Homo sapiens: one gene and its partners. The protein of the gene in region 1 purifies or fractionates together with the protein of each later gene. This does not show direct contact. Each region holds a gene or a part of one and is shown on either strand. Other genes may lie near its edges. The genes, in order: GTPBP10, DHX40, ATAD3A, GNLY and DCUN1D5.

Region 1 (4,082 bases):
CCATGGATGCTTTCTCCCTGAAGTCAGGAAGTACCTTCCCAATACGAGACTGACTTGTAAAGTTCCTCTGCTAATGGACAGTGCCCCACCTCCCCGCTACCCAGAACCCCATGAGTTCAACATCAAAGGCACTGAAGTGGTGTCCTTGCCCCCAAACACAATGTCTGTAAATCAGCCTCTAGATCACGGGGTCGCAAGGACCTTTAAGGCTCATTAAACATGATTTTCTACGAAAAGGATTGTCAACCATGGAAAAGAACACTAATAGAGAAAACTTCAGGAAAATCTGAAGTTTACATAATTGAAGATGCCATTATTATTGAAAAAGCCATGAAAGCCATAAGCCCCAAACAGTAAGTTCGTGCTGGAGAAAACTTTGTCCAGGTGTTGTGTTGTGTTATAATTTCACAGGATTTACAAAAGAGCCAATCAAGGAAATCATGAAAGAGGCTGTGAATATGCCAAAAACGGCGGGAAAGTGGGTAAAGGACTTCAAGATATGGATCTTGAAGAAACTCAAGAGCTAACAGCCACCAAACCAGAGGAATTAACAGAAGACAGCTTGATGAGTGCTTCAGATCCAGTGCCAGATAACAAGGAAGAAAACACAGAATAAACTACCAGAAAAACGAACATTAGATAATCTGGCAGAAGAGCTCCTATTGTTCAGGACTGCTTTTGACTTCTTTTATGACATGGACCCTTCTGTGAAGAGGCACTGAAACCAAAGCAAATGGTGGAAGAGGTATTGGTACCCTATAGAAACATTTTTTTGGGGGAAAGAGAAAAGCAAAAGCATGACAGAAATTATGATGTACTTCCATAAAGTTACACATAGTGTGTCTGCCTCTCTTGCCTCCCCTTCCACCTCCTCCACCCCCACCCCTTCTGCCTCTGCCACCCAAGAGAGCAAGACCAACTCCTCCTCTTCCTCCTCAGTCTATTCAACATGAAGACTATAAGGATGAAGACCTTTACAATTCACTTCCATTTAATGAACAGTAAATATATTTTCCCTTCTTTCTGACTTTCTTAGTAACTGTTTCTTTTCTCTAGCTTAATTTAAGAATACAGTATATACTATATATATATTTTATATGTGTCAACTGACGGCTTATGTTATCAGTGAGGCTTCCAGCCAACAGATTATTAGTAGTTGTTTTGTGGGGGGAGTTGAAAGTTACATGAAGATTTTCAGCTGTGGCGGGGGCATCTCTAACCCCCATGTTCTTGAAGGGTCAACTGTATATCCAAAGCTACTAAAATACCCTTCTGGTATCTTTTATTTTCTTTTTTTTGAAACAGGGTCTGGTTCTGGTGCCTGGGCTCGAGTGCCGTGGCACTATCATAGCACTATCATTGCTGCAGCCTCAAACTCCTGGGCTCAAGCAATTCTCCCACTTCAGCCTCCCAAATGGCTGGGACTACAGGCACCACACCACCCCGACTGTTTTAAAGATGGGGTCTTGCTATGTTGCCCAGACTGGTCTTGAACTCCTGGCCTTAAGGGATCCTCCCACCTCAGCCTCCCAAGTAGCAAGAACAATAGGCTCACCTACCATGCCTAGTTCCTTCCTGTATCCTTTTCACTTGCTCAACCCTTCCTCTCTTCCTCTTTGCTCTGTACTACATGAAATACCGCCATTTCTACATGCCATTCTGCTCATGCTTTTCCTCTACTTAGAATGTCATTTGTTTTTCCTATCATAAATCCACCTAAACGTCATATTTTCTAACGTCTTTCCAAATTCCTCTAATCAATTCTCTGACTTTGCTGGCTCTCCCAGCAATTTGATTATATCTCTATTATTACACCTTTATAAATCTCACGCTGCATTTAGTGTTTACCTGTTTCCTTCACTAAATCAAGAACTTCTTGTAGGTAAAGGACTTACGTATTAACCTCTTAGGCTATTAAAATCAAAATAACTTAAGGAGTAATTTCTTAAATTCATAATCCACATCTCTAGTCATTTAGGATAGCTATTATAAAAAACAAATGGGATTTTTTTTTCAAGAAAGTTGAAATATTGACCATTCTGATATACTCGAGGAGAGTTTCTACAGTTCCATTAAATATGTAACACTTTTTTCCTGCTCTAGATTAATCAGATTCAGGGGTTTAGGAGCCTTACTTAAAAGGAGTATTTTACTCTGGTCGTTAGAAATAAAGTAATGGCCAAATATGACGCAGGCAACGTTTCAAAAAGCATTACTGATAGGATAAGATTTAAAAAATAAAAATTCAAAGCAGTTGTAAATTTTTACGGAAACGATTCTTAAGACCGACACCACACAAAAATCGACCTAAATGTTCTGCAGGAAGGCACATCAATTACACGCTTTCGTGTCTTCATAAAAATCCATTAGAAAAACCTTAAACAGCGCACTCAAGGAGAAATATATAAAAACAGGCTGTGGACATTAAAGGAAAAAAAACCACCACAACATTTGGGCCACAGCAGGCAGGTATCCCAGTTCCTCATACCACGTGCACACTATGTCTCTAAAGAACTTCAAACCCTGCCCCTGCCCCCAAACAACCGTCCAAACCACGCCAGGTACACACACCACTGTCACCGCTTACTGACAAAGCGCCACTACAGGAGGGGCGGAGAAGTCTATGGGAAAACCAAGCAAGGAAAAGGCCGCCACGAAGACAGTAGTGGAGAGACAGGGGAGCAAAGAAGAACCAGAGCTGTCAGCGCTAAGGGGACCAGGCTGAGGGGACCCGCACGGACCTTTCTGAACAACACGCAACTGCAATGCACCATGGCTGCAACAGGCCAGGAAACCTTCTTGCGGAAGCGGCACAAGCCGCAGTACAGCGCGGCCTTTTTACGTCATCCCCTGCCGCCGACGCGATTTCTCCTCCGCCCACACCTGCGGACTGGCGCATGCGTTGTGTGATGCTCTCGGGCGCCACCAGCCCCATGCGCTGTGCTTTGCACCCCACGGGTGGGGAGAGAAGGCGTTTTATCTATTAAAACACAGAGATAATCTCGAGAAGCCGTGGGACAAAGGACAGTAGGGCGTAGGTTGCGTGTCTCAGGAATTAACATTTTGAATGGAATGGAACTGAAGACTCAGCAGCCTTGGAGCAGCTTTTATGCTAATTGAGGAAACTAAGAATCTTCACCCTCAGCGTGAAAAAACCTCCAACGGACCATAAAACCAAACGTGTAAAAGACACAGAAACTCAACTGGGAAAAAAGAACCCCCAAAAGCCGTTAGTTCAGTGACGAGCTGAGTAGTCTCCAGCCAAAGCTTCCAGGAGACCATGAATTTAAAACTAGCGGCCGCACAAAGTTTTATTGAAAATAATGTCAGGATCTGAGATCTGTAAGAGGACTCTCCTGTGCAGTAAGAGAAAGAAGCTTGTTTACAACTGTCAGAAAGTAGCTTCTTGGAGTCGGGAAGACGGGTTTTTATCCGTCATTTGAAGCGTGCCTTTGTGAGAATTAAGACACGATGTGAAAAATCCCTCTCTCTCTTGATTACTTTTCAGGACCAGAAGAGAGTAGCTCTCCCCAACCCCTCATGCAGCGAAAAAATGTATGCAGCTGAAGTAAACGGCCCTGCACAGCGTTGCCAGCCGTATAACTCTTAACAACCCAAACTAATAAATCCTAGAAACCTTTCATACTTTGATACGATATGGCTCTGTGTCGCCACCCAAATCTCATCTTCATTTGTAATCCCCATTGTGGAAGTAGGGAAGTGATTGGATCATGCAGGGCTGTTTCTCTCCTGCCGCTCTCCTGATAGGGAGTTCCCACAAGAGCTGACGGTTTTATAAGTGTTTGGAAGTTCCTCCTTCTTTCTTCTCTCTCCTGCTTGCCATGTGAAGAAGGTGCTTGTTTCCGCTTCCCCTTTTGCCATGATTATAAGTTTTCTAAGGCCTCCCCAGCCATGTAGAACTGTGAATCAATTAAGCCTCTTTCCTTTATAAATTACCCAGTCTGCGCAGTTCTTTATGGCACTGTGAAAACTGACTAATACCTCAATGTGACAGTGTCTTCTACTCCTCACTTAGGACAGTGATTATTTGGAAAGACATGATGTGAAAACCCCGTCTTGAT
Region 2 (2,639 bases), on another chromosome or scaffold:
ATAGTAGCGGATTATTATGCACTTAATAAAATGTGAAATCGTGTCTATCGTGGTATAAATAAATGAGTAAAAGTTTATTGAGAAATGGAATTGTTTACAAGCACCTCTCCATAAAATTTTTGTTAATTACAAAAGCAAAAAGTAACTTTACAGTGGAGAATCCTGGCATATGTGACCTAAATCAAGCAATCAAAGTGAACATAATGAAATAAATAAAAATCATGTTCTTCCTGATAGGATACAATGAGAAAAACACAGCATTATGTCTGTGATATTCCTGCTAAAGATGCATAACCTGAATCTAATCATCCTGAAACAGACAAACTCAAACTGAGGGACATACCACACAGTAACTAGCCTTGACATCTTTAAAGGTGCCAAGATCATGAAAGTCAAAGACTGAGGAAGTATTCCAGAATGAAGGAGACCAAAGGGAAATGAAAAATAAAGGCAATGTATGATTCTGAATTACATCCTTTTGCTATAAAGGATATTATTAAGACAAATTGGTGAAATGTCAGTGGGGTCTGAGGATTAATTGTTAGTAATGTATCAGTGTTAATTTCCTGGTTTTGATGGTTATAGTCATGTCGGAGAATGTTCTTGATTGTTGATTGTAAGAAGTGCACAGTCGAGTATTTGAGGATGATGGGGTATTAGGTTGGCAGTTTGCTGTCAAATGATTCAGGTAAAAATTTTTTTACTCTCAACTTTTCTGTAAATTTAGATTGTTTCACACTTTTAAAAATATGGTATATCTTGGTTACCCTCTGTATGCCAAACACTGGGCAGGTACTAAAAATAGAAAAGTAGAGTAACATGAGTCCTTACATCATTCTTGATGATACCTGAGTCTAATGGAGGGTACAGATATGTAAGTGAATAATTACAGTGCAGTCTGATCTGGGTTATACTATGAATATATACAAAGTACTATAGGAAATAAATTATGACAAATGAACTAGGTTTATTTTTTTGACAAGTTTTTTGGAATGACATTTAGGTAGGGTAATGTAGAAGAAAATAAGGGCATGAATCGGAAAAATGATAGATTAATTGTCAAGTTTTAGAGTAGTGAAAAAATCATCCCTTTAAAAAGAGATGCAGCATAGTATAACATAAAGAAACCATATTTAAGTCAGAAGAACTGTTTAGGACTTGGTTTTACCATGCGTTAGCGCTGGTGATCTTGAGAAGTCTAGCTAATTTATTTGAATTTTAGTTTTGACTTTTTAATAAAGTTCCTGGCTCTCAAAGCTCATAGATTATTGTTAATATTTGTACTGATTCCTTATACCTAATTGTAGTGACTTATACCTAATTGTAGTGACTGTTTAACCTGTATAATTAATTTAAGATGAATTGGTAGAGAGCTTGTAGTGACAGTTGAATAAATGTAAACCTCTGCTTATAATGCTGTTTGTAGTAGAACATATTGTAATTGTTCATTGCTGAATGTAATGCTCCATTTACTTCATTGCTTTACTGTTGTAGTCTTTATCATTTTGTTTTTCTGTTTATAGATCTGTTGGGAGAACGTTTTGCACAATGGATGGTCGTGGAAGCCCAGTTCACATTCATCCTTCCTCAGCAGTAAGTACTTCATTTTTAATAAAGGGAAGAAATTTGTAAAGTTGTAGAAATAAGTAATATACAAATGTCTTCTACTTTTCACTTTGGAGTTAAATTTACATATATCTATATTACATAGATCTATAAGGGTATTGGTTGGCCTGTGCCTCCTGTTTGAAGAAGATAGGAATTAATTGAGAAGGATTTGGACTATTTGGTTGGTTTAATGTGGAATAGGGCAGGTTATTGAGTTACCATCATTAAAAGAAATGTTTTGTATAGCTTCATGAACAGGAAACCAAACTTGAATGGATCATTTTTCATGAGGTATTGGTTACCACCAAAGTCTACGCAAGAATTGTATGCCCAATCCGTTATGAATGGGTAAGAGACTTGTTACCCAAGTTGCATGAATTTAATGCACATGATTTGAGCAGTGTGGCCCGACGTGAAGTGAGAGAAGATGCAAGAAGGAGATGGACAAATAAGGAAAATGTAAAGCAGCTAAAGGGTGAGTAAATCATTTGTTCTACTCTTAACCACTATGCCATACTGCTTCCCAGTAGTACTTCACTATTTTTGTTTATAAAAATGTTGTGACCCACCTGGGCAATGTGGTGAGATCCCATCTCTAGCAAAATAAAAATAAAAATTAGCCAGGCATGTTGGTGTGCACCTGTAGTCCCAGTGACTTGGGAGGCTGATGCAGGAGGATCGCTTGAACCCAGGAGTTTGAGGCTGCAGTGAACTGTGATTTCACCAGTGCACTCCAGCCTGGGGGTGACAGAGTGAGACACTATCTCTAAAAAAAAAAAAGTGATGATTTATGCATTATTAACTCAGAATCCCCTTTGTTTCCAAGGGGCTTTTTCTTTCTTTCTTTCTTTTTCTTTCTTCTTTGAGACGGAGTTTTGCTCTTATTGCCCAGGCTGGAGTGTAATGGTGTGATTTTGGCTCACTGCAGCCTCTGCCTCCCGGTTCAAGCTATTCTCCTGCCTCAGCCTCCTGAGTAGCTGGATTACAGGCATGCACCACCACGCCTGGCTAAGTTTGTATATCCAAGGGGC
Region 3 (3,521 bases), on another chromosome or scaffold:
TACCCGTGCGGGGGGTGGGGGGGTTGTGCGTGCCTGTGGGGGGGGGTGTGTACGCCCGTGTGTGGGTGTGTGCCCATGTGCGGGTGTGTGTGTGTGTCCCTGTGACGGGAAGGCGTGTGTGCCCGTATGTGTGTGTGGGGTCTGTGCGCCCATGTGGGGGGGTTGTGTGCGTGCCCATGTGTGCGGGGGGGCTGTGCCCATGTGTATAGGGGGGTGTACGCGCGCCCATGTGTGTGGGTGTGTGTGTGTCCGTCTATGGGGGGGCATGCCCATGTGTGTGTGGGTGTGCGCCTGTGTGTGTGGGGCTGTGTGTGTGCCCGAGTGCGCGGGTGCCAGTGAGCCTGTGGGGGGTATGTGTGCGCCTGTGTGTGTGTGGGGGGGTACGTACCTGTGTGTGGTGTGTGTGTGCGTATCTGTGTGTGTGTGTGCGGGGTGTATGTGCGTACCTGTCTGTATGGGGGTGTGTTTACAGGTGTGAGTGTCCATGTGGGTGTGTGCCTGCCCGTGTTGTGTGGGGGTATGTTTGCGGGTGTGTGAGTGCAGGCCTCTGTGTGGGGGTGTCTGTGTGTGGGCCCGTGTGTGCAGGGGTGTGTGTGTGCCCGTGTGTGCAGAAGTGGGTGCACCTGTCTGTGTGTGCTGGGAGTGTGTGTGCGAGGAGTGTGTGTCCGTGTGGGTAGGTGCCTGTGTCTCCATGTACATGTGTGCACACGTCTGCATGTGTGCCTGTACACGTGTGCTGGTGCGTGTCTGTCCGAGTAGTTTCCCCTGCTCTAGCACCCACCGTCAGCAACCCCAGCGTTCTTGCCCCGTGGCCTCTGACCCACTGACTGGTCCCACAAAGCCACCTACGTTCTCAGGGACGCAGGCGCCTCGCAGGGGAGGCTGAGCTCACCTGCTGCTTCAGTTGGTCCTCGTAGCGCTGCCGGGCCAGCTTGTCTTGATACTGGGCCCTCTGGGGGAGAAGAGGGCGGCAAAGACACATCTCAGCCGGGAGCTGCAGTCTGGGCCGACTGGGCGGAGCGCCGGGGACTCCGACGCGCCATCAGCCTCACACAAACGTGGGGAGGCGCGGGGACCTCCCGTCCGGCTCAGCAGTGAGGGACCTTACAGGTCTTAGGCGTTTGTGCAAGGCCGTTCCGAGGGCAGCTCTAATGGCTGACTCCAGAGTGCCCCGGGACCACACCCAGCTCCCAGTCCTGCCCCAGGCCGCTCCCCGCAGCCGGGCGGCCTCCCTCGCGGCCTCTTGCGCTCTTACGGCCTGGTGCTGCCGGGTCTCCTCGCTCAGGGTCTTCCTCCTCTCCTCAGCCTGCGCCCGGATCTGCTCGCTCTTGAGCTGCTCCACGGCGGCCTCATACTCCTGCAGAGCACAGCACTCACCAGCTGGCACTTGCTCAGGGCTGGCACTGCCTGACAGCCGCTCCTGTGTCTGCACGGCTCCGGCACGGCAGAGACTCCATGCCCAGACTAGTGTGTGCAGCAGGCTCAGGGCTTCCAGCCGCATCTGCACCCAGGATCAGGCCCTGGAGGAATCCAGACCCACAGGCACAGAAGCACCAGCAGAAGCCCGCGAAGGCCCCCCGGGAGGGAGGCCGGACACCCCCTTTTGGACTGCACTGAGGGCAGAGCTCATGCTTATTTTAGGAATCCTGCTGAGTGGACCGGGTGCGACGGCTCTCGCTTATAATCCCAGCACTTTGGGAGGCCAAAGTGGGTGGATCAACTGAGGTTAGTAGTTCGAGACCAGCCTGAACAACATGGTGAAACCCCATCTCTACTAAAAATACAAAAATTAGCCAGATGTGGTGGCGGGCTCTTGTAGTCCCAGCTGCTCGGAGGCTGAGGAAAGAGGTTGAACCCGGGAGGTAGAGGTTGCGGTGAGCTGAGATCACGCCACTGCACACCGGCCTGGAAGACAGACTAAGACTCTGTCTATAAAAAAATAATAATATGAAACAAGGCAGGCACAGTGGCACAAGCCTGTAATCCCAGCACTTTGGGAGGCCGAGGCAGGTGGATCACTTGAAGTCAGGAGTTCAAGACCAGGCTGGCCAACATGGTGAAACCCCGACTCTACTAAAAATATAAAAATTAGCCAGGTGTGGTGGCGGGTGCCTGTAATCCCAGCTATTCAGGAGGCTGAGGCAGGAGAATTGCTTGAACCCAGGAGCGGAGGTTGCAGTGAGCCCAGATGGCACCACAGAACTCCAGCCTGGGAAACAGAGACTCCGTTTCAAAATAAATAAATAAAACGAAATAAAACAAAAAAATCCTGCTGAGTGTAATGAAATGAGAAGATCCAGGCCATCCGGACGACCAGACGCCCTCACCAACACCGGCCCTCCCTCCGGACGACCAGACGCCCTCACCAACACCAGCCCTCCCTCTCGGGCGGCTCTGCGGCAGCGTCTCTCACCTCCCTTTGTTTCCTTCTGTGAAATGAGGCGCCCAAGCTTGGCCCTGGGCCCCACTGCTGCCCATGTACACACCCCCGGCCCTACCCACCGGCAGTAGCCCTACCAATCTCCATGCCCGAACCCCATGTGCGCCCCGGCCTCCCCACCCACACCGGCCCCACTCACTTTGAGCTTGGACTGTTGCTCCAACTGCAGCGTCTGCTCCTGCATCTGTGCCAGATTCAGGGCGTCCTTGGCATAACCTGCAGACGCAAGGACACGGAGGGCAGGTGTTAGGATACACGGATGCCGCTGGGCAGGCACGCACACCAGCCAAGGGGCTTTCTGGAATCCACGGCCACGCCTCGACCTCAAAGCCCCCAGCCCTGCCTCCCCATCCTCCTTCCTAGTCAGACCTGGCGTGACGATGCACCATCCCCAGCACACGGCCTGATGCATTTGTGAGGTTTTATCCCCCCAGGGATGGTCTTGGAGAGCCACATCAGGAAGGCCATCCCACGTGGACGGGAGGAGGCTCTTTCCCAATTCAACAGAAAGTCAGGCGATGGCTAAAGTGTCCTCTATTTTTTCACGTTACATTCGCTTTTCCTAAGCTTCCAATGGCTGTTGTCATTGATCTGCTATCAAGCACATGCAGGCAAGAAAGGGAATGAATAAGAATAGGATACCAGCCAACAAGCTCAGGGTGACGAGGACAAGCATCTGACAACGTCCTCAGTTACGTTTTGTTCCTAGAGGGGAACTGACACAGGTCGATGTTTGGGTGTCGTGGGACAGAAGTACGTATTCTCTGAGCTGCTGAGGCCTCAGCATCAGGTCTCAAAATTTTCTGGGATGACAGTTTTCCCATCATAAAACTTTACCATAAAAATCTTTTGGCTGGGCGCGGTGGCTCACTACTGTACTCCCAGCACTTTGAGAGGCTGAGACGGGTGGATCACTTGAGTCCAGGAGTTAGAGACCGGCCTGACCAATGTGGTGAAACCCCATCTCTACTAAATATACAAAAATTAGCTGGGCGCAGTGGCGGACGCCTGTAATCCCAGCTACTCTGAGGCTGAGGTGGGAGGATGGCTTGAACCCCGGAGACAGAGGCTGCAGTGAACC
Region 4 (4,148 bases), on another chromosome or scaffold:
AGGACCTGGCTGGGGGCTCCAGATAGAGGGGGTGCATAGAGAAGACTGGTGGGGTGGGAGGTGTGGTCAGAGCTTGGAGTCTTGGCTCATTTGGTTTTAAAGTCTCTTCTATGCCATCCCAGGGGAGGAGGATGAATCTGGGTATCCAGGGCTAAGTGCGAGCCTGCAGTGCCAGGATGCTGAGTAGTTTGGGGCAGCAGAGGAGAGGGAAGGAGGGAGAGTGAAACAATAATTCTTGGTAGTAACACAGTCATTCGTTAAGCATTTACTCAGTGCTGGACGTGGAGCTAAGTACATCCCAGCCCTCAGCTCTTTTAAAAAGCTTCAGCAGCCAGGTGCAGTGGCTCATGCCTGTAATCCCACACTTTGGGAGGCCAAGGCAGGTGGATTGCTTCAGCTCAGAAGTTGGAGACCAGCCTGGGCAACACAGTGAGACCCTGTTTCTACAAAAGTACAAAAATTAGCTGGGCATGGTGGCGCACACCTGGAGCCCCAGGTACTCAGGAGGCTTAGACAGGAGAATTGCTTGGGCCAGGGAGGCAGAGGTTGCAGTGAGCCAAGATCACACCAGTGCACTCCAGCCTGGGTCTCAGAGTAAGATCCTATCTCAAGGAAAAAAAAAAAAAAAGGGTTTGACAACTTGCAAGATAGGGACTATTATCCATCACATTTCAAAGATAAGATAACAGAGGCTCAGAAAGTGGAAGTGACTTGCCCAAGGCCATGCAGCTTGGAAGTAGCAGATCTGGGATTTATCAGTCCTGACCCAGGCCTCTTGGGGAACTAGCTTCTCAAACTCTGCCTTGGACACAAATGTTAGGGCTTTAGGGGAAGATTCCTAACTTCTCTGGGACAAGCCCTCTTTGAGGATACATGATGAAAACCATGTATACTCTGCCGTCTGACTTACACAGTTCCAGAGAGTCACAATTTCACAAGTTCTCTGAAATTCATCCACAGACACACGGGGACTCACAGATTCCCTTCTAGGAAGCCCTCCCCCAGGATCACTGTGCAAGGTGCCCCCGGGCTCCCCGATCCCCGACCTGGTCACAGGCTGGCCCCTCCATTGAGCAGCAGACAGGAGGCTCTGTAGCCCCTTGGCCTCACCTGGGTGGGCTTATCCACCATCTTCTTCAGTTTTTGGACTATCGTCAGACAGGTCCTGTAGTCACGGCCCAGCTCCTGTGTTTTGGTCAACAGGTCACCCTGTCAGGAAAGAAAGCCCTTATGATGGTCTCTCAGACACTCTGGGAGCGCGTGAAAGTGCCCAGGAAAGGGGCCCTTTGTGTTTCTGAGGCCGGCAGGAATGTCCGTGATCTCTTCCCAGAGCGTGGATACACTGAAGGCCTGAACTGGCTGCCTGGCCCCTGCCCACCCTTTTGCTTGTCTTAGAGGCTCTGAGACACCCCAGAAACAGCCTCCCACACCCCCAGTACTTTCCCAGCCCTGCACTTGCCCCTCTCCTATTGAGGAACTCCCAGGGGAGTCTGCCTATTTGGGTTCTGCAGCCCCAGGCTCCTTGGAGGGTGAGACCCCAGAGGATCCTCCTGGAGGAGTCTGCCAGATACCTGTAGCCCTCCTGGCCAGACATGAATTCAACAAAACCAGCATCGTCAGAAACAGCCCAGCCTCCACTCCCACCTCCTGACCATTAGAGAGCTCCAGACCTCACCCCAGGAGCCACCAGGGAGGAGGGAAAGGAGAGGGACTGTGGCAGGTGAGCAGAGAGCCAACACGTACCTGGGGGCCCTCCTGGGCCAGGCACGGGCAGGATTTCTCCTCATCACGCAGGTGGGCTCTTGCCAGGTCGTAGTACTCAGGGCTCAGACGAGAGAAGACCAGACCTGAGGAAGACCAGACTTCAGCTTCCCCTCCGCAGGCGGAAGGAGAGGGAAAGCCCGTTCTCCTGGCTGGTGGGAGTCCAGGAGGTGACCAGGGCCTAGGACAGGAGCTGGGCCTTGCAGGGGGCCAGGATACCTGTCCACATGCTTTGCCCTGGAGCCGCTCTGACCCACTCTCAGCACAAACACGTGTTCTCACGTTCCTTCTAGAAAGCCAGGAGGGCGAGACTCTCTCTTCTCCTCTGTTCCCCCAGCAACACAGATTTGGGGGTCGGTTTGTCTAGAAACTTCCCTCAATCTCCTTTCAAGGGATTTTCTTTTTTTACCTTCCATCCAGATGGCCCAGCCAAATCCACTCTCCCTTCCAGAAGTGTTCTTGCCCTTGGGGCTCACACTGACCTCAAGGCCTGGGAGAGAGCAGGGTGCAGGGGGCAGGAAGTCTGCCTTGAACACAGAAGAGATCTTGTTCTCTCACCAGCCCCGCACAATCCTAGACAGTGTAGGCCCGAGGAAACGCAGATCCACCGATGAGGGCCAATGGCCTTCACCACGCAGATGCGGAGGCAGGGGCTTGGGAGGGAAAGGGGGGTCTCAGGCCACACAGTGTGGCCAGTAGAGTTAGGACCAGAATCCCTGGCCTGTCTCTCCTCCTTGGCCAGGCCAGTGACAGGCTGGGCAGCACACTGGACTAAGCCTGGCTCTGAGGGGAGGCCAGGCCTCCATGACGGGGGAGAAGGCCGGGGGGAGGCAGGGGCACCTGGGTGCCCACAGAGTCCAAGCTCCAGGTTCAGCCAGCCTGAGAGTGCGAGGCTGGGTGGGCCATCAGGATCGATCCCGAGGGGAAGGCCTTACCTGGGTTGCCCAGGAGCATGGCTGCAAGGAGCAGGAGGGCCCAGGTAGCCATGGTGGGGCAGCCGCTGAGATGCCTTTCACACCCTGTTTTATGGGCAGGGAGCCTGCAGCTTAATCTTTCTCAGGTCCTGCCCTTTTTGTATGTCATCTCCCCCGTGTCACTGGGTTTACCACAGATACAAATACCAGTGTGTGAAGAAGCAGCTCAGGGCAGTGGTAGCCCACAGGGTCCATGCCACACCCCACTCCCACACAACTAGAATGTGGGGTTGCTGGAGGCCAGCAGCTGCCAGGATGCCTGGGATGTGCCGATGGAGGGAGAAACCCCTTAGTACAAGTACGTTCCAGATATTGCATGGGACATACTTATACTAAAAGTATAAGTGAGTCATCTCACTTGACCCAAAAACTATTTTTAAACAGCTTTTTAATTTAACAATATACCACGAACATCTTTCCACATTTGTAAATGTAGATCTTCTTCATCATTTCCCCTGGTTGCCTAATGGTTCCCTTTACACATGAACCATAGCTGGGGTCCTGTAACTCTGGGACTCGTGTCCCCTGTGGTACTTCGGCTTGAAGAGCAGAGGCTGGGAAGCCTCTCCAAGGGCTCACCCAGTAGTCAAGTTGAGTGATGTGAGGGCCTTCTTCAGACAGGGTGCCTCAGCATCTCAAAAAGGCAGCTGTAGCTCCTCCAGGCTACAAGGCCTGTTCACGTGGAAAATGGAAAGAGTGAAGCTGAAAGAGGTGGTACCTGTATAGGAAAAACATCTTTCCCAGGGACCCTCAGCCTCCATCTCATTGATCTGAACTGTGTCACATGATGACCCTGGCTGCAAAGGGCAATAGGAAGGGAGTCTTTTGCTGGACCTTCACTGACACTTTGCTTTTTGTTGTTGTTGTTTGTTTTTGTTTTGTTTTTCTTTTTTGAGACAGAGTTTCACTCTTGTCACCCAAGCTGAAGTGCAGTGGTGTGATCTTGGCTGATTGCAACCTCCACCTCCGGGTTCAAGTGATTCTCCTGTCTCAGCCTCCTGAGTAGCTGGGATTACAGGTGCACGCCACCATGCCCTGCTAATTTGTGTGTTTTTAGTAGAGACAGGGTTTCACCATGTTGGCCAGGCTGGTCTTGAACTCCTGACCTCAGGTGATCCGCCTGCCTCGGCCTCCCAAAGTGTTAGGATTACAGGCATCAGCCACCGCACCTGGCCTTCATTGACACTTCGAACAAAATTGATATCCTGCTAGGGAGGATGAGGGAATGGGAATCGTATAGGCAATGGCAGTGTCAGCTACCGCAGGACTTTTTTTTTTTTTTTCTGATACAAGTTCTTGCTCTGTACCTCAGGCTAGAGTGCAGTGGTGCAATCACAGATCACTGCAGCCTCAACCGCCCAGGCTCCAACAATCCCCCCACCTCAGCCTCCCAAGTAGATGAGACCACAGGTG
Region 5 (3,996 bases), on another chromosome or scaffold:
CAGTGTGGATTTTTCAAGATGGCATAGTACTCTATTGCATAAATATGCTGTAATTTATTCAACAAATTTTCTATGCTTAAACATTTAGGTTATTTCATTTTTTCTATCAAATATGTTATGATAAAAATCTTTTGAAAGTTTTAAAATTTATTCTTTAAGATGATAGGCATAGAATTGTTGGGTGAGAAAATATGAAACTTACTAAGGCTTTTGGATGTATCTCCCTAAATGACTTCCAGAAAAGGCTATGCCAATGTATATTCCCTCCAGCAAAGTATAACAATTCCTGTCTCCTTGTGTCATCAAACATGGGCATTATCAATTTTTAAAATCTGTGCCAATTTGGAAGGCAAAAATACCATAGTTGTTTTAATATGCATTTCTTGTCTTGGCTTACATTTGTTTAATTCCTTTAATAGTAGGTCAACATTATAAACAGGGTTGTACTAGAATGTGTGCCATACAGTGAATTAGAAAAATACACAAAAGATTACTGGACATCTTATACAAGTGAAATCATTTATTTATCTATTCATTTTCATTTATTCCATTTATTGAGTGCTTTTCTATACTGTGGATAGTTCTGAGTACTGGTGAAATAAAAGCAAAAACACACAGTCCCTGCTCTCAAGGAGCTCACAGTTAAGAAAACAGATATGTAAGTATGCTACTGTAATATGGTGTTATCAGCACTCTAATAAAAGTATATACAAGGTTAGTAGTGTCTCCATGATGGGTAAGGAAAGGGTGTTTCTTTAAAAATAATCAGACCCAGAATAAGGGGGGAAACCCTCCATGTCTACAGGATGCAGTAGAGATCTTGGGCATTCCAGAGACAAAGAAAGGTGCTGCAACTTCTGGACATAAAGAAGTTCCAATAAATCCAATCTTACATCATAAAGACTAAGCTTACCATCACCAATTCATACATTGGAAGTTCAAGAACCAGATTTCCCTTATTCAGTTGGTGGTCTGTCATCTTTTTTCCAATTATTTTGTAACATTGGACTAGTCAACATACCATCTTATGACCAAATTTAAAACAAATTACTGGTTAAGGAAAAAAATGACTCATTAGTAAGTAAAGTGACAAGCAGAACAAATGAACCATCCATCCTTCAGGAAACTTTTTTAAAAAAAGATTTTCTGCATGGTTTATCTTGTGGTTTGCTTCTTCTGACAAGGCAGCAACCTTAGAAATGATATCAGCATGAAAAGTTCATGACTTATTCACCTGTGACATAACTTTGGAGTCTCATGGGAGTTCCAAAGTTTTTCTCCTGATCATGAGATTTGGTGGCTTCACATATTTACTTCCCCCCCCCCCCCGCCACCCCTGTGTTAACAGGTTTACTGGCAGATGCAGGAGGTGACATTCCAGTGGCTCCATTATTTTCATTAGTCAATATCATTTATTCTTTGTCATTAAACAAATATTTGGAACCCACTACATTCAAAGCATAGCATTAGGTTTTACTTAGCATTTTACAAACACTTTTAAGTACAATATCAATATGCACATCAATCTTACCTCTACCTCACAGAAGAGGAAAAAGGGAGCTCAAGTTATCTTCTCAAGGTCACATAGTCACTAAGAAGCAAAGGACTCTGAACACAGATCTCTGAACTCCAAACCCAGGGCTCTTTCCAGCCTTCCTTACTAGTCTCCCTGTCCTCAGATTTTCCTGCTGCCTAATTAATGTTCTTAAAACACCAAAGTAGCCCCAGCCTTCATCGCGTCTCATCTGCTCTGAAAATCCACTTTGACTATTTCAGTCCACAGAACTCACTCTCCTCTGAACTCCTATAGCTTATTGTCATATTATTCAACTGGCACTAACTCAGAAAATGCTTAGTGAGATCTGTCTTTAATTATGAAATAATTTTAGTGTCTATTTAGAAGACACTGTGCCCGGTTATGTGAGACTGCTCCAGTACTACTTAAACGTAAGTTTTATTCAGTTCTGCAAATGCTTTTGACAACCTACCATGAGTCAGGCACCATGCTGAGAGCTGAAGACATGGTTTCTGCCCTCAAGAATCTCAGTCTAATGGGAATGTGGATATGTAAACGTTTTACAGACATATGTGTACAATTGGTCATTCATTCATTAATTCAGTAAGCAAACTCAATTTGCAGGCCATGAGAGATAAGTAAAATACGGTCCATTTCTTTTAAGTAACTTGCAGTCTAGGATCAAAGAGAGACGTGAATTTTTTCATTCATTAAATACCTATTATGTGGTGGAAACAAGTGAGGAACACCTATGAATAACATGGTCTCTGTTCACAGAGCTGTTTCCTTTTTAAGGATCATAATCTTCAAAGGTAGAAACTAACAACTACACTGTTTTATCCTGTGTAATAAGAGGGCATAGCAAAGCCTGGGCCTATGGATATTTATTGGATATTGATTCATTCCTTCATTCTTGTATCTACTCCAAGTCTCTCTTGGTAGTTCTTACATATCATCCTTTTTTAGACCAGCTCTAGATAATGAATCTAAGATAGAATTATCATAAACCTTATAGTTCTAGTGTAAGTATTTCCAAAGATACTTGGAATATTTTTCATGTTATTCCAAACACCAACCACTTCTTGGCTTTTTATAGAGAGAATAAAATAGAAATTCCTAAATAGAAATTCAGTTTTCTCACTCTATTACTTTGTTCACATGTTTGATGTCAAGGTGCAAATGTGCAAGTAGTGGTTTTTAAAACCTGCTATTCAGAGAGCAAGGAGTTCCTTTGAGGTTTTTCAGAAATAATACTAGCAGCGAGGAAGACAGGGAGCTTCCCACTTAACCAGAGTATTTTAGCTTTCTGTTTTAAATACTGTGCTTCTAGGTAAAACTTATTTTGCAATAGGGTCCTGCTACTTAATTAAAAAAAAACTGATTTAAGAGACTCAATGTAATAAGACATCATAGAATTTTGGCTTTTTATTTTTTAATATTTCTCTTTTTTAAAAATAGAGTCCTTCCTATGAAGTCAAACCAATCCACTTTTAAAGACAGCCATAGTAGCTATGTTACTGAGCATTTATTACTTGGTGCCAACTACACTGTAAATTGATCATTTAGTCATATTTAGCATCCATTTAATGAACCATTTCACTATACTGCCTACAAAGAAAGCAAGTAATACAAATCAGTGTGCATCATTGACATTACAGATTAATTTCCTAAGAGATTTGCATTTCTAAATATGTCTATGTAGACAGAAGAAATAAGACCTGGTGTTCGATATATCAGTAGGATGACTGATCTATTAACACTAAACTATTGTACATTTCAAAATAGCTAAAGAGAATTCGAATGTTCCTAGTGTAAAGAAAACATAAATATTTAAGGTGATGGATATCCCAATTATCTTCATTTAATTATATGAATATATCATACTATCACATGTACCCCCCAAATAAATACATTATGTATCAATGAATTTTAATTATATGAATATATCATACTATCACATGTACCCCCAAATAAATACATCATGTATCAATGAATTTTAATTATATGAATATATCATATTATCACATGTACCCCCCAAATAAATACATCTATTATGTATCAATGAAAAAAATGTATCTGAGTGGTTCAATTTTTCCATTTGACTCTACTATATATAACACTTATTGAACACAAGTCCATCCTATGAGGTTCAATTGATGTTTTTCCAGATAGCAAAGAGTAACTAATATTTACTGCCTGTATTTCATTTCATCCTCAAAATAATGCTATTAGATAAGGACTATTATTATCCTCATGTTACAGACAAGGAAATGAAAGAACTAGCACACAGAAATAGGTACCCTAAAAGGACTAGGGGTGCAAGAGGACCATGTATGGGAAAACTTTCCAGGTGAAAAGCAGGAAAAAGAACCTCATTCCAGAAGGTTCCATTTCATGTCAAACTTCTCAAACTGACGTAAGCCAGATAGAGAGAACCTCCCAATTTCCACATCTATGTCTCCTGTTTACTCCAATGACTA

Evidence for each region.
Region 2: the proteins of GTPBP10 (region 1) and DHX40 fractionate together in Homo sapiens (co-fractionation; one large-scale study listed by BioGRID). This does not show direct contact.
Region 3: the proteins of GTPBP10 (region 1) and ATAD3A purify together in Homo sapiens (tandem affinity purification; one large-scale study listed by IntAct). This does not show direct contact.
Region 4: the proteins of GTPBP10 (region 1) and GNLY purify together in Homo sapiens (co-immunoprecipitation; one large-scale study listed by IntAct). This does not show direct contact.
Region 5: the proteins of GTPBP10 (region 1) and DCUN1D5 fractionate together in Homo sapiens (co-fractionation; one large-scale study listed by BioGRID). This does not show direct contact.

What each region holds. Positions count from the first base shown.
Region 1 is NC_000007.14:90,345,434-90,349,515, reverse strand, and holds the start of GTPBP10 (GTP-binding protein 10), read right to left. Parts: upstream 2,801-4,082; 5' UTR 2,775-2,800; coding exon 2,742-2,774; intron 1-2,741. UniProt on the Homo sapiens protein: May be involved in the ribosome maturation process. Complements an ObgE(CgtA) function in E.coli ribosome maturation. Plays a role of GTPase in vitro. When missing, disorganization of the nucleolar architecture is observed.
Region 2 is NC_000017.11:59,603,592-59,606,230, forward strand, and holds part of DHX40 (probable ATP-dependent RNA helicase DHX40), read left to right. Parts: intron 1-1,523; coding exon 1,524-1,593; intron 1,594-1,854; coding exon 1,855-2,083; intron 2,084-2,639. UniProt on the Homo sapiens protein: Probable ATP-dependent RNA helicase.
Region 3 is NC_000001.11:1,515,147-1,518,667, reverse strand, and holds part of ATAD3A (ATPase family AAA domain-containing protein 3A), read right to left. Parts: intron 3,035-3,521; exon of another isoform or gene 2,853-3,034; coding exon of another isoform or gene 2,810-2,852; intron 2,657-2,809; coding exon 2,580-2,656; intron 1,502-2,579; coding exon of another isoform or gene 1,358-1,501; coding exon 1,256-1,357; intron 953-1,255; coding exon 893-952; intron 1-892. UniProt on the Homo sapiens protein: Essential for mitochondrial network organization, mitochondrial metabolism and cell growth at organism and cellular level. May play an important role in mitochondrial protein synthesis. May also participate in mitochondrial DNA replication.
Region 4 is NC_000002.12:85,693,019-85,697,166, reverse strand, and holds the start of GNLY (granulysin isoform 2 precursor), read right to left. Parts: upstream 2,810-4,148; 5' UTR 2,749-2,809; coding exon 2,697-2,748; intron 2,415-2,696; exon of another isoform or gene 2,252-2,414; coding exon of another isoform or gene 2,171-2,251; intron 1,848-2,170; coding exon 1,744-1,847; intron 1,210-1,743; coding exon 1,111-1,209; intron 180-1,110; coding exon of another isoform or gene 87-179; exon of another isoform or gene 1-86.
Region 5 is NC_000011.10:103,050,186-103,054,181, forward strand, and holds the end of DCUN1D5 (DCN1-like protein 5), read right to left. Parts: 3' UTR 501-3,996; downstream 1-500. UniProt on the Homo sapiens protein: Contributes to the neddylation of all cullins by transferring NEDD8 from N-terminally acetylated NEDD8-conjugating E2s enzyme to different cullin C-terminal domain-RBX complexes which is necessary for the activation of cullin-RING E3 ubiquitin ligases (CRLs).